2 linked regions of the Homo sapiens genome follow. The protein of the gene in region 2 purifies or fractionates together with the protein of the main gene of each other region. This does not show direct contact. Each region holds a gene or a part of one and is shown on either strand. Other genes may lie near its edges.

Region 1 (5,360 bases), on a different chromosome or scaffold from region 2:
TGGTGACGTTGAACTTGTCCATGGTGGTGATGATGATGGCTGGAGTGGTGAGGAAGAAGAGGAGGATGAAGAGGACGACATTGATGACCAGGCAGCGCAGCCACCAGATGAAGCCTCGGATGGAGAGGTGCTCCCTGGCAAGGTGGGGAACCGGTCAGTCCAGGAACCAAGGGCAGGATTGGCCCCCAGTGACACCAAGACACTCCCTCTCCTCCGCCTACCTACTGAGCCCATCCCAGGCCCTGGAAAGCCTGCCCTGACACCTGTTTGCTCACCAGTAGATGTTCTGAGGGTCAGGGGCATAGGACACGGTCCAGTTGGAGATGTGCAGGGACTCGCTGCAGGATGAGGGGCGTGGCTCCCCACGGCAGGTGCAGCCCTGGCATTTACACACGTTGAAGTCCTTCAGGATGCTAGAAAGATGGGCACTGGTTACCACAGGCCCACCTGGAGGCCACACTGCTGGCAGAAGGCCATGAGCACAGGGGTCAGGGAGCCCTGGAGGGCTGCTCAGGGCCGAGGGCCGAGTTGGGGACTCACATGGCGGTGATAGTCTCATTGTGGAAGGTGACAAAGGCCATGCCAAGAGGCTTCTCATTCACCTTCTCCTTCTCCCGCTTGTAGTCTTCCTTCAGCTTCTGCTCCAGCTTTGTGTAGTACTCAATGGCCTCCACCTTTGTGGGAGGGTTAGGGACAGGGCCTCTAGTTGGAAAGCCAGGCTGGGGCCTGCAGCATCCAGCCCACGCTGACTTGGGGCTTCCTACAAGCCAGGCACTGCTCCTCTAAGCATTTTTTTTTTTTTGGAAACAGCGTCTCGCTCTGATGCCCAGGCTGGAGTGTAGTGGTGGAATCTCAGCTCACTGGAGCCTCAAGCTCCCAGGCTAAAGTGACCCTCCCACCTCAGCCTCCCAAGTGGCTGGGAATACATGTGTGCAGTACCATGCCTGGCTAATTTTTGTATTTTTTGTAGAGATCAGGTTTTGCCATGTTTCCCAGGCTGGTCTCAAACTCCTGGCTCAAGTGATCCACCTGCTTCAGCCTCACAAAGTGCTGGGATTACAGGCATATGCCACCGCACCCAGCACCTCTAAGCTTCTTTATATGTATTACTCACTTTACCCTCACAACACTCTCATAAGGTGGGTACGTTAACCCCATGAGGAAACTGAGGCACTGAGCAGTAAGCAACTTGCTCAAGTCCCCAGAGTCAGTGGGTACAGCACAACATTGTCCTTTTGGCTGACATTTTCTAATTTGAGGTTTGAAAACCTGGTCACTGTAGGGACATTAGACAAACCCAACAGTGGGAACTGAGGCTTCAAGGATTCCAGGGACAGGTGGGGACTCACTGAGGGCAGGGCCCCAGCCTTGCCTGCCCAGGACCTGTCCAACTTCTCCCGACTCAACAGCCAGCCCGCGTCATACCTGCTCACAGCCTCGCACCACACAGCAGCAGAGGTGGCCACAGGGCTTGGGGTTGATCATGGTAGGCACGTTCTCCTTGCTCTGGAGGTTTGTGAAGTACAGCTTTCCCCGCTCGGCCTTCTTCCTGTGGGACCCAGATGCCTGGTCACCTACATCTGGGGCTGGGGCTGGCTCAGCTTGGGGGTCATCTAGCTCACTCCCCAAGGACAGGAGCTGTCTTGTTCTTGTTTAGGATACATGTTTCAGATGTGGCCACATCCCAAGGTCTCCCCACCCATCCCTAGAGGGCCAGAAGTTCTTCCTGCAGGCTGACCTAAATTTCTCATACTGTAGCCAAAGAAGGGCATGTCCTCAGATGCAGTGGGGACCATGGGCCCCCCTTCCCCTCACAACAAACTCTAACCTCCAGGCCTTGCTCTTTCCAGAGCTGAATTAACAGGCACACCAACGAGTTGAATTAAAATCAAATGCCCTAGGAAAAAATCTAGAAGGGGAGCCTGTGTGGTAGCCAAGATGTCCTCCACAATGGCAGGGGGCCCTTGGTGTCACCCTCCTCTGCCCCCAGTCCCTTACCTCTCTGCATCGAGGAACATTAGGCGAGCCACGTTGTAACACGGGCGGGCTTCGAGAACTGTGCAGTTGGGGTAGGCTTCCCTGAAACACAGTTCATGTATCATCTTGTGCAGGGACCCCACCCACCTGCCCCTGACTTTCATCCATGACCCCATCACCTTCAAGAAACACATCTCTGGCTGGACGTGGTGGCTCACATCTGTAATCCCAGCACTTTGGGGGGCCGAAGCGGGAGGATCACCTGAGGTCAGGAGTTCGAAACCAGCCTGGCCAACATGGTGAAACCCTGTCTCTACTAAAAATACAAAAATTAGCTGGGCATGGTGGCACGTGCCTGTAGTCCCAGCTACTCAGGAGGCTGAGGCAGAAGAATTGCTCGAACCCGGGAGGTGGAGGTTGCAGTGAGCCAAGATCGCGCCACTGCACTCCAGACTGGGCGACAGAGCGAGACTCCATCTCAAAAAAAAAGACAAAAAAACCCACATCTCCAATTCAAGCTGCCTTTTTCTTAGTCTACAAAACTGAGAGTTCCCCAAGAATAAAGCTTTGGAGTTCCTCCTCATGCTTATCTGAGTGGGGAAGTGGGAGCAGAAGGCCTGAGCACTGTGTGACTGCAGGCTGGGCTAACAAACCAGGATGTGTAGGGACATACTGCATGCAGGTAGGGAAGCCAGGGCTATGGTCTGATTCCTGTCCAGGGCTGTGACCTTTAGGTTGAAAAAAATTGCATCTAGTCATAGGCTATATAATTCCTTAACCCTGTTCCCAGAAGACCTGGTCACAGCCCAACACTTAGCCTTGACCACAGACTGACCTCAACCAACCCATAACCCAGTCTACAAAATGATCTCTAACTTTGGCCCAAGACAGACAAGAGATTGATCCTGACCCCTGACCAGGGTGAGACTGACCTGTAACCCTGGCCAAAGACTGACCCTTAAGCCCACCCTGGCCAAAGACTGACCCCAGACCTGTTGCCCAGACCCAAGACTGACCTCCTAACCCTGACCCCAGATTCATCCTTACCTTGACTTAAGACTGACCAGAGAGAAACTGGCACTGACTCACTAGTACCTGGTACCAGGCAAGGCTTGAAGAATGCTTGCTGAGTGAAGGAATAGTTCATTTTTTTGTTTGTTTGTTTGTTTCAAATATTCTGAGATGGGGTCTTGTTGTATTGCCCAGGCTGGTCTTGAACTCCTGGGTTCAAGTGATCATCCTGCCTCAGCTTCCCAAAGTGTGGGCATTACACTAGTGAGCCACCATGGCTGGAGGGAATAGTTTCTTTTTGTTTTTTGTTTCGTTTTTGTTTTTGTTTTTGTTTTGTTTTGTTTTTGAGACGGAGTCTCACTCTGTCACCCGGGCTAGAATGCAGTGGTGTGATCTGGGCTCACTACAACCTTTGCTTCCCGGGTTCAAGTGATTCTCGTGCTTCAGCCTTCTGAGTAGCTGGGATTACAGGTGTGTGCCACCACACCCGGCTAATTTTTTTTTTTTTTTTGTATTTTTAGTAGAGATAGGGTTTCAACATGTTGGCCAGGCTGGTCTCGAACTCCTGACCTCAGGTGATTGGCCCGCCCTGGCTTCCCAAAGTGCTGGGATTATAGGCATGAGCTGCCATACCCAGCCTAATAGCTTTTTTTTTTTTTTTTTGAGGCGGAGTCTTGCTCTGTCGCCCAGGCTGGAGTGCAGTGGTGCAATCTCAGCTCACTGTAACCTCCACCTCTTGGGTTCAAGTGATTCCCCTGTCTCAGCCTCTCCAGTAGCTGGGATTATAGGCACATGCCACCACGCCTGGCTAATTTTTATGTTTTTAGTAGAGATGGGGTTTCACCATCTTGGCCAGGCTGGTCCTGAACTCCTGACCTTGTGATTCACCCACCTCGGCTCCCCAAAGTGCTGGGATTACAGGTGTGAGCCACCGCACCTGGCCAGTAGTTCGTTTTTAAATCTGATCATGCACTGTTCTTTGATCCTAATCCTTAATCTAGACTGAGTCCCCATCTTTTTATATTTTATTAAAATTTTTAGGTTGAACACAGTGGCTCATGCCTGTAATCCCAAAACTTTGAGAGGCTGAGACAGGAGGATTGCTTGAGGCCAGGAGTTCATGACCAGCCTGGGCAACATAGTGAGACCCTGTCTCTAAAAAAAGAAAAAAAAATTAGCCAGGTGTGGTGGTGAGTGCCTGTAGTTCCAGCTACTCGGGAGTCTGAGGCAGGAGGATCGATTCAGCCCAGGAGGTCAAGGCTGCAGTGAGCTATGACCACGCCCCTGTATTGCAGCACTCCAGCCAGGGAGACAGAGTGAGACTCTGTCTCAAAAAAAATTGTTTTTTTTTTTAAATGAAGGACCACCAAGTATTGAATGCATGAGTTACTGTTCTAAAGTATTAAGATAGTCCTCATAAACCCATGAGAATTTAGAAACTTAAATCTGGGATAGGGTCCTTGAGATGTACTTCCCAGGAGGCTAGAGACCTTTCCTCTGATATTGTTCCTCAAACCATTTGAGGTTTCCCCTTTGGAAGGGTGAGCTCTCATTCTCACTAAACTCATCTCTAATCCTCTAAATCCAACCACACAGGCCCGTTGATTTGCATGCAAGATATTTCCTAATTGTGCTGAGACAGTCTTCCAATCCAGACAGACTGCAGACTTGGACCACAAGCCCTGCCTAATCCTGACAATGAGCTCAAGCGCTGTCTCTTAGTCCTCACCATATACCCAGCCCTGTCCCAACAGCTTGTATATAGCAGGTGTTCAATACACATGTGGTAAATGAGCGGATCAATGAAATGGCTACTCCATAATGCTCATCCCAGTGATCCAAAAAACTCCAATTAGGACTAGAGTCTCCCTTACCCCTGCTTATAGGCTGACCTCTCCTAAACAAAACTATAGACCAACCCCTGAAACACAACTAGGATCTTCAGCTTCCCAAGGGCACTGATCAGGTCTGATTATACTCTGTCTCCCAGGCATGAAGCACATAGTAGGTATACAATAAATGTGGGCTGAATGAATAGACAGTTGACTAGTAGGGTTCACTCAGGTCTCTGTTCAAATGCCACGCTGTCAGAGTCCCTCCCTGTCTATCCCATCAGAAATAGCAACCCTTCCCAACCCCTCTTACCCTGCCTGCTTCCCTGCTGTGGTTTTCTTAGCACCTACCTCTTCTTGACACAGTCTCTATTACTAGTTCATCCGGTCCCTGTCCACCCCTCCCCACTAAAATGAAAGCAAATGAGGGCAGGCCTTCTGTCGTTTACTGCTATACCCCCAGCTCCTCCCCAAGCAGGCACATAGCAGGTGCTCACTAGATATTTGTATCAAAAAACAAAAACAAAAACAAAAACAACA
Region 2 (5,360 bases):
GTCATCAATTAATATTTTTTTTGTGGGGAGGGTCAGATAATATTTGCTTGCTACTTGTCCAACATTAGGCCATACAACCCTAAAAGAATAATAGGTTTTGTTTGTTTTTTGAGGCAGAGCCTTGCTCTGTCTCCTAGGCTGGAGTGCAGTGGCAAGATCTCAGTTCATTGCAACCTCCACTTCATAGATTCAAGCAATTCTTGTTCCTCAGCCTCCGAGGTAGCTGGGATTACAGGCCTGTGCCACTAAACCCTGCTAACTTTTGTATTTCTAGTAGAGATGGTCTTTTGACATGTTTGTCAGGCTGGTCTCAAACTCCTGGGCTCAAGTGATCCGCTCGCCTCAACCTCCCAAATTGTTGGAACTACAGGCCTGAGCCACCGTGCCCAGCCAAGAATAATAGTTATTCAGTGTTTAAACTCAACCCGTAGAAGGTTTGAAATAAAGCGGATGTGACTAAAACTTTAGTAATAGTATAAACTATTTCTAGGTTGGCAGGATTTTTGGCTCCTCTGTATCCTTGGGCTCCTTGTCTGTGGATTCAATCAACTGTGGATTAAAAATATTTGGAAAAAAGTCCCACAAAGTTTCAAAAAGCAAAACTTGAATTTGCCATGCACAGAGTACTGCCTTGAATTTATGTGAATGAAGTGATGTGCCTGGTGTTAGGCATTATATTAGATGTTGTAAGTAACCTGAAGATAATTTAACATATTTAGGAGGACATGCATAGGATATATGCATACACTACAGGCCATAAGGGACTTGAGCATCCTTCGATTTTGGGGGCAACCTGGAAACAGGCCCTCACAGACACTGAGGGATAACTCTTCATAAATGTAAGATTAGCTTCTTCTAACATGGAGGAAATCTTCCTTCCTCAATCTAATTAATTCTGACCTTCGGAACTTAGATCAGATCTAAGTTCAGATCTTATATTTGTCCTATCCAAATCTGCATTACTGAATTAACACATAGGTGGGAGGAAGTAAATTTAATAATAGGTGATTATATTATTCAGACAACAAGTACAATAGGTGAACTTTAAAAAAGAAAACACGTAACTCTAAGCAGCAATTAAAAGATGTCTTTTAAGTTTATGTTTATATTTAAGATATTGAGTATAATGTGTGCTAAGCTTCTGTGTTCTTAAAACTGTGAACCATTTTAATAATTTCTTTTATTAAAAAGAAACAATTTCTGTTTGTATCCTAACTAAATCAAGTGAACACATAATATTTATGTTAATGGCCTTTAAGCCATAAGAACTAGAAATGATATTTTTATTACTCTAAACATATGCTATGTTGACTACTTTCTGAATTTATACTAAAACATAGTTTTTCAGTATATTAGTTTTTTGACATAATGAATTAGTTATAGGTTGACTATAGGTCACTCCTGAGTTTCTTTTGTTCTTGAACTAAGAAAAGAATGTTTCCTCTAAATCAGCATTTTCTGATTTTTACTATTAACAGGAAAGGCCCCAACCCAGCTTATTTTGAAAGGAGTAATATTATTTGTCGGTGACAATATTTTCCTGGGTTGTCCAGAAAGCACAAAATCTTTTGTAATTAATAATAGTGTTTCTTTTCACTCACCAGTGGGTCCAGTTTAGACAACAAATTATTTGGTGACCGTAATGATTTGCTCTGATTTGTTTTATAAACTTGGACTTCTAAGGTTTCACTATTCTAATTTATTGTATAATTTTCAATTCTGATTGGTGTAAACAAATTTGTTTGAATTATTTCACATATAAGTTTCTCATGAAACAGTTTGAACTCAAGGACACAGAAAAATAGGATTTCATTCTATTAAAATAATAATTCCGTTTACTTGTAGAATATTCTCTGGAATATTATGACCTGGTTATAATGACTACCATATATTGTATCGAATTCATTTTATTCTTCTGGATATCATACATTACAAAATATGTTCTGATTACTTTCAATACTAGTTATTATACTACACAATACATGTAGATACTTATTTTCACTTTCATTTCTGTTGATGATGGTGCCTGACTGCTATGGGTTTTTTTTTTTTTTTTTTTTTTTTTGAGATGGAGTTTCGCTCTTGTCTCACAGGCTGGAGTGCAATGGCATGATCTCAGCTCACTGCAACCTCTGCCTCCTGGGTTCAAGCAATTCTTCTGCCTCAGCCTCCCAAGTAGCTGGGATTATAGGCGCCCACCACCATGCCAGGCTAATATTTTGTACTTTTAGTAGAGACAGGTATTCACCATGTTGGCCAGGCTGGTTTCAAACTCCTGACCTCAGGTGACCCACCCAACTCGGACTTCCAAATTGCTGGGATTACAGACGAGAGCCACCACATCCGGCCGACTGCTATGGTTTTGATTGATGTGCCTGCTAAATGGTGAACTAGTAAAGAACTGTTTCATGGTCAGAAACTGAGCTTTTGAGGAAAAATAAATTAGGATAAATAGATAATTAGATAGTCTTGAAATGAGTTGAAATACCAGAGAATAAGGTTGAGAAGATCAACATGTTCTTATCTTTGTTTAAAAAAAGCAACCATTTATGAGATTAAAATAATTGTTTTGCTATTTAATGTACTTTGTAACTTTTAATGAGATATGTGAAAATTTAATCTAAATTCAACTAGCTTTATTTTCAACACATTTTTGTTATATGTCTGTTATGTGCCATATACTGATAGATATGATGCAACTTCTGCTCTCATTGTGCTTATGGTCAAATATTACAAAGTTTATGGATAAGGGAAGAAATATTATTTATCATTACAAATAAACAAAATACTTAAAATTATGAAATCTGGGCAATCAAATCTGGGCATTCTGCTTTGTAATTTAATATATTTTATACAACTAGAGCAAATTTGATAATATCTTTCTCCCCTTTGCCTTTATTAATTCCTTTATGAGAAAATGGATTCTCATAGTAAGAATACTTTAAAAAAATGTATGGGCCATAAAAATACTTGGTTTTAAAATTTTATAAATGAGATTAAATAAACCTAGAAAATGTGAGTCATCTTTAAATTATTTAACTACATAAACACTTTCTGGTACAGTTTTCCATAATAAATATTGGTTTAATATGTATAATTTATAGTTTATGAAATTAAATATAAAACAAGTTATTTATAGATTTTGCTAGAAACTTTTTCTAGAAATGTAAGGGCCACACATTTTTTTCTATACTCTGTGCATAAATAGTGAAGTGTAGGGATTGTTTTATGTAGATAACTTTAAAAAGTTAATCTTCACAAATTTCATCTTTGGTATATAAAATGTACATTTCCCATGCAAAACTAATTTATAAGAATATCAAAATTATCATTCTCAGAAAACCAAACAACAGAATGGCTGTGACTACTAGCAGTGAAAAAGTTTGACACTACATGTGTTTGGTATGAGGGTACAACTAGTTTCTAACTGTATTCTTTCTTTTACAATAATGTGTAATTCTAAACTCCAAAAGTCAACCTCTTTTTCTTAGAGTATTTTTCTTTCTTTTTCACAGCACGGAAAAGGATATGCTAGTCAATTCTACAGGACTTACCTGAAGCAGCATGATTTGCACAAAGTCGACCAACAAAAGCATCAACTTTTCAACTTCATTATCTTGGCCATCCAGTTAGTCATGTGTAACTGAGTATTAGATTTCGGATGGAGTCATCATGGCCAATTATAGGACCTAATTGCTCTCAGCAGGCCTGAGAAATGAGTTGAAATGTGCAGAACTGTAGAAACTTTAGAGGCAACAGATTTTGCCTCCCCGATCAGTGTGTGCCTGTTTACAGCACTATCTATCTTTCTCTCTCCAAATGTCACTGAGCCCTTTAGATGTTTATATTCACCACGAGAAGCCAGTCATAAAGATAAAGGAAATTTGTGCATTATAAATGCAATATCACTGTTTTAAACTTGACTGTTTTATATTATTTTTGTGTGATCAAGTGTTCCGCAAGCTATTCCAACTTTACAAGAGAAATTGTGATTATGTTCTTTTCACCTGTGGGTTATAAAAAATGTTGTATTCTGAAGACCCACAAAATATCAAAGACATTCTGTAGTTTATACACCGTGTTGCAAAGTGTTTACTGTACTATTTCAAAGCTTCTAAATAAATATAAAATATATATATTATATTATATAATTTTCCTAAAATGTGGTACAACTCAGTTGGTTTTTAAATGGATGCATACAGTCCACATCATACAATAAAATAAAAGGTAATTCAGGGTCCCAAAGACAAACTTACTAAGAAAAAATCATTAATAGTTTTCTCCCAATTTCCATATCTTACTCAACCGTGTTTTTCCTTGTTTAAAAGAAAATGATGCTCTAAGCTACAAAATTTTGTCAAAAACTCATATTGAATTTTCAATGCCAAAGATGTAGCTATTGATGTTATCAGACAGAGCACTGACTATGTACTATCAAACTATCTAACAATCTGCATAAGTCTGATTCTATTTCTATGACTTTGAATTTAGAATCACTTAAAGCTTTTATAAAGAATCGATAAATTCACCTGTATTTGTTGTTAGAAAAAAACTGGGTGTCTGTACATTTTGTGGTGTAAAATATGTAATTGAAGATTACTATTTTAAGAAGTCATCAGTCATATCACTCACACAGAATTTTATTTTACATAGTTTTGTGACTTAATTACACATGAATATAAAATCTATAATTCTATATGAATATATAGAGATATAGAAACATCTGAACTGGTAAAGAATAACTATAAAATATGAAAGCTCTAAATTTAAAATAAATTTAGAGATAGAATCATGGTACATTATTGTTTCAGTATTCCATGTGAAAATTTTATAGCTTAAATGTAGTCAGTGTTTGATTAATGAAAAAATTCTTCATGAGTCAGCCTTCAAAAGTTAAGCTTGCCTTTTACTTTTATGTCAACAATATTAATTATTAAATTTAGTAAGACGCACTTTCCTTTCTTTTATATATTTTTTCTACTGTTGTGTATGCCTTGTTAGAACACATTCGAGAGAGGAAAAAAATCAGAGAATATAAGATAATCTTTCAAGCAAAAAACAGAATTGTCACAGCTCCCCTCGCCCTCTAAACTATGATATCAAAACATCATATCAAAGCTTCAACATTATATCAAAATGTTTGCCCAGTTCAAATTAGAAACCTGTTTTGAAATACTTTCCTTAATTTTTAACTGATCTTATATTCAATGACAGTTTGAGCTGCACTGTGTTATTAAAGAATAGACTAAAACTTAACATTTGACAAATGTTCTTCATCAAATTTTATGTAACTTAAGTGGAAATTTTTCCCTAGATTTAACTTTAAAATACATATATATACACACACACACACACACACA

The links. The genes of interacting proteins can lie anywhere in the genome.
Region 1: the proteins of PCDH10 (region 2) and TMEM63B purify together in Homo sapiens (affinity purification with mass spectrometry; one large-scale study listed by BioGRID and IntAct). This does not show direct contact.

The regions. Positions count from the first base shown.
Region 1 is NC_000006.12:44,143,566-44,148,925, reverse strand, and holds part of TMEM63B (mechanosensitive cation channel TMEM63B), read right to left. Parts: intron 2,080-5,360; coding exon 1,999-2,079; intron 1,550-1,998; coding exon 1,426-1,549; intron 675-1,425; coding exon 541-674; intron 414-540; coding exon 276-413; intron 135-275; coding exon 1-134. UniProt on the Homo sapiens protein: Mechanosensitive cation channel with low conductance and high activation threshold. Osmosensitive cation channel preferentially activated by hypotonic stress.
Region 2 is NC_000004.12:133,186,626-133,191,985, forward strand, and holds part of PCDH10 (protocadherin-10 isoform 1 precursor), read left to right. Parts: intron 1-3,515; coding exon 3,516-3,535; 3' UTR 3,536-5,360.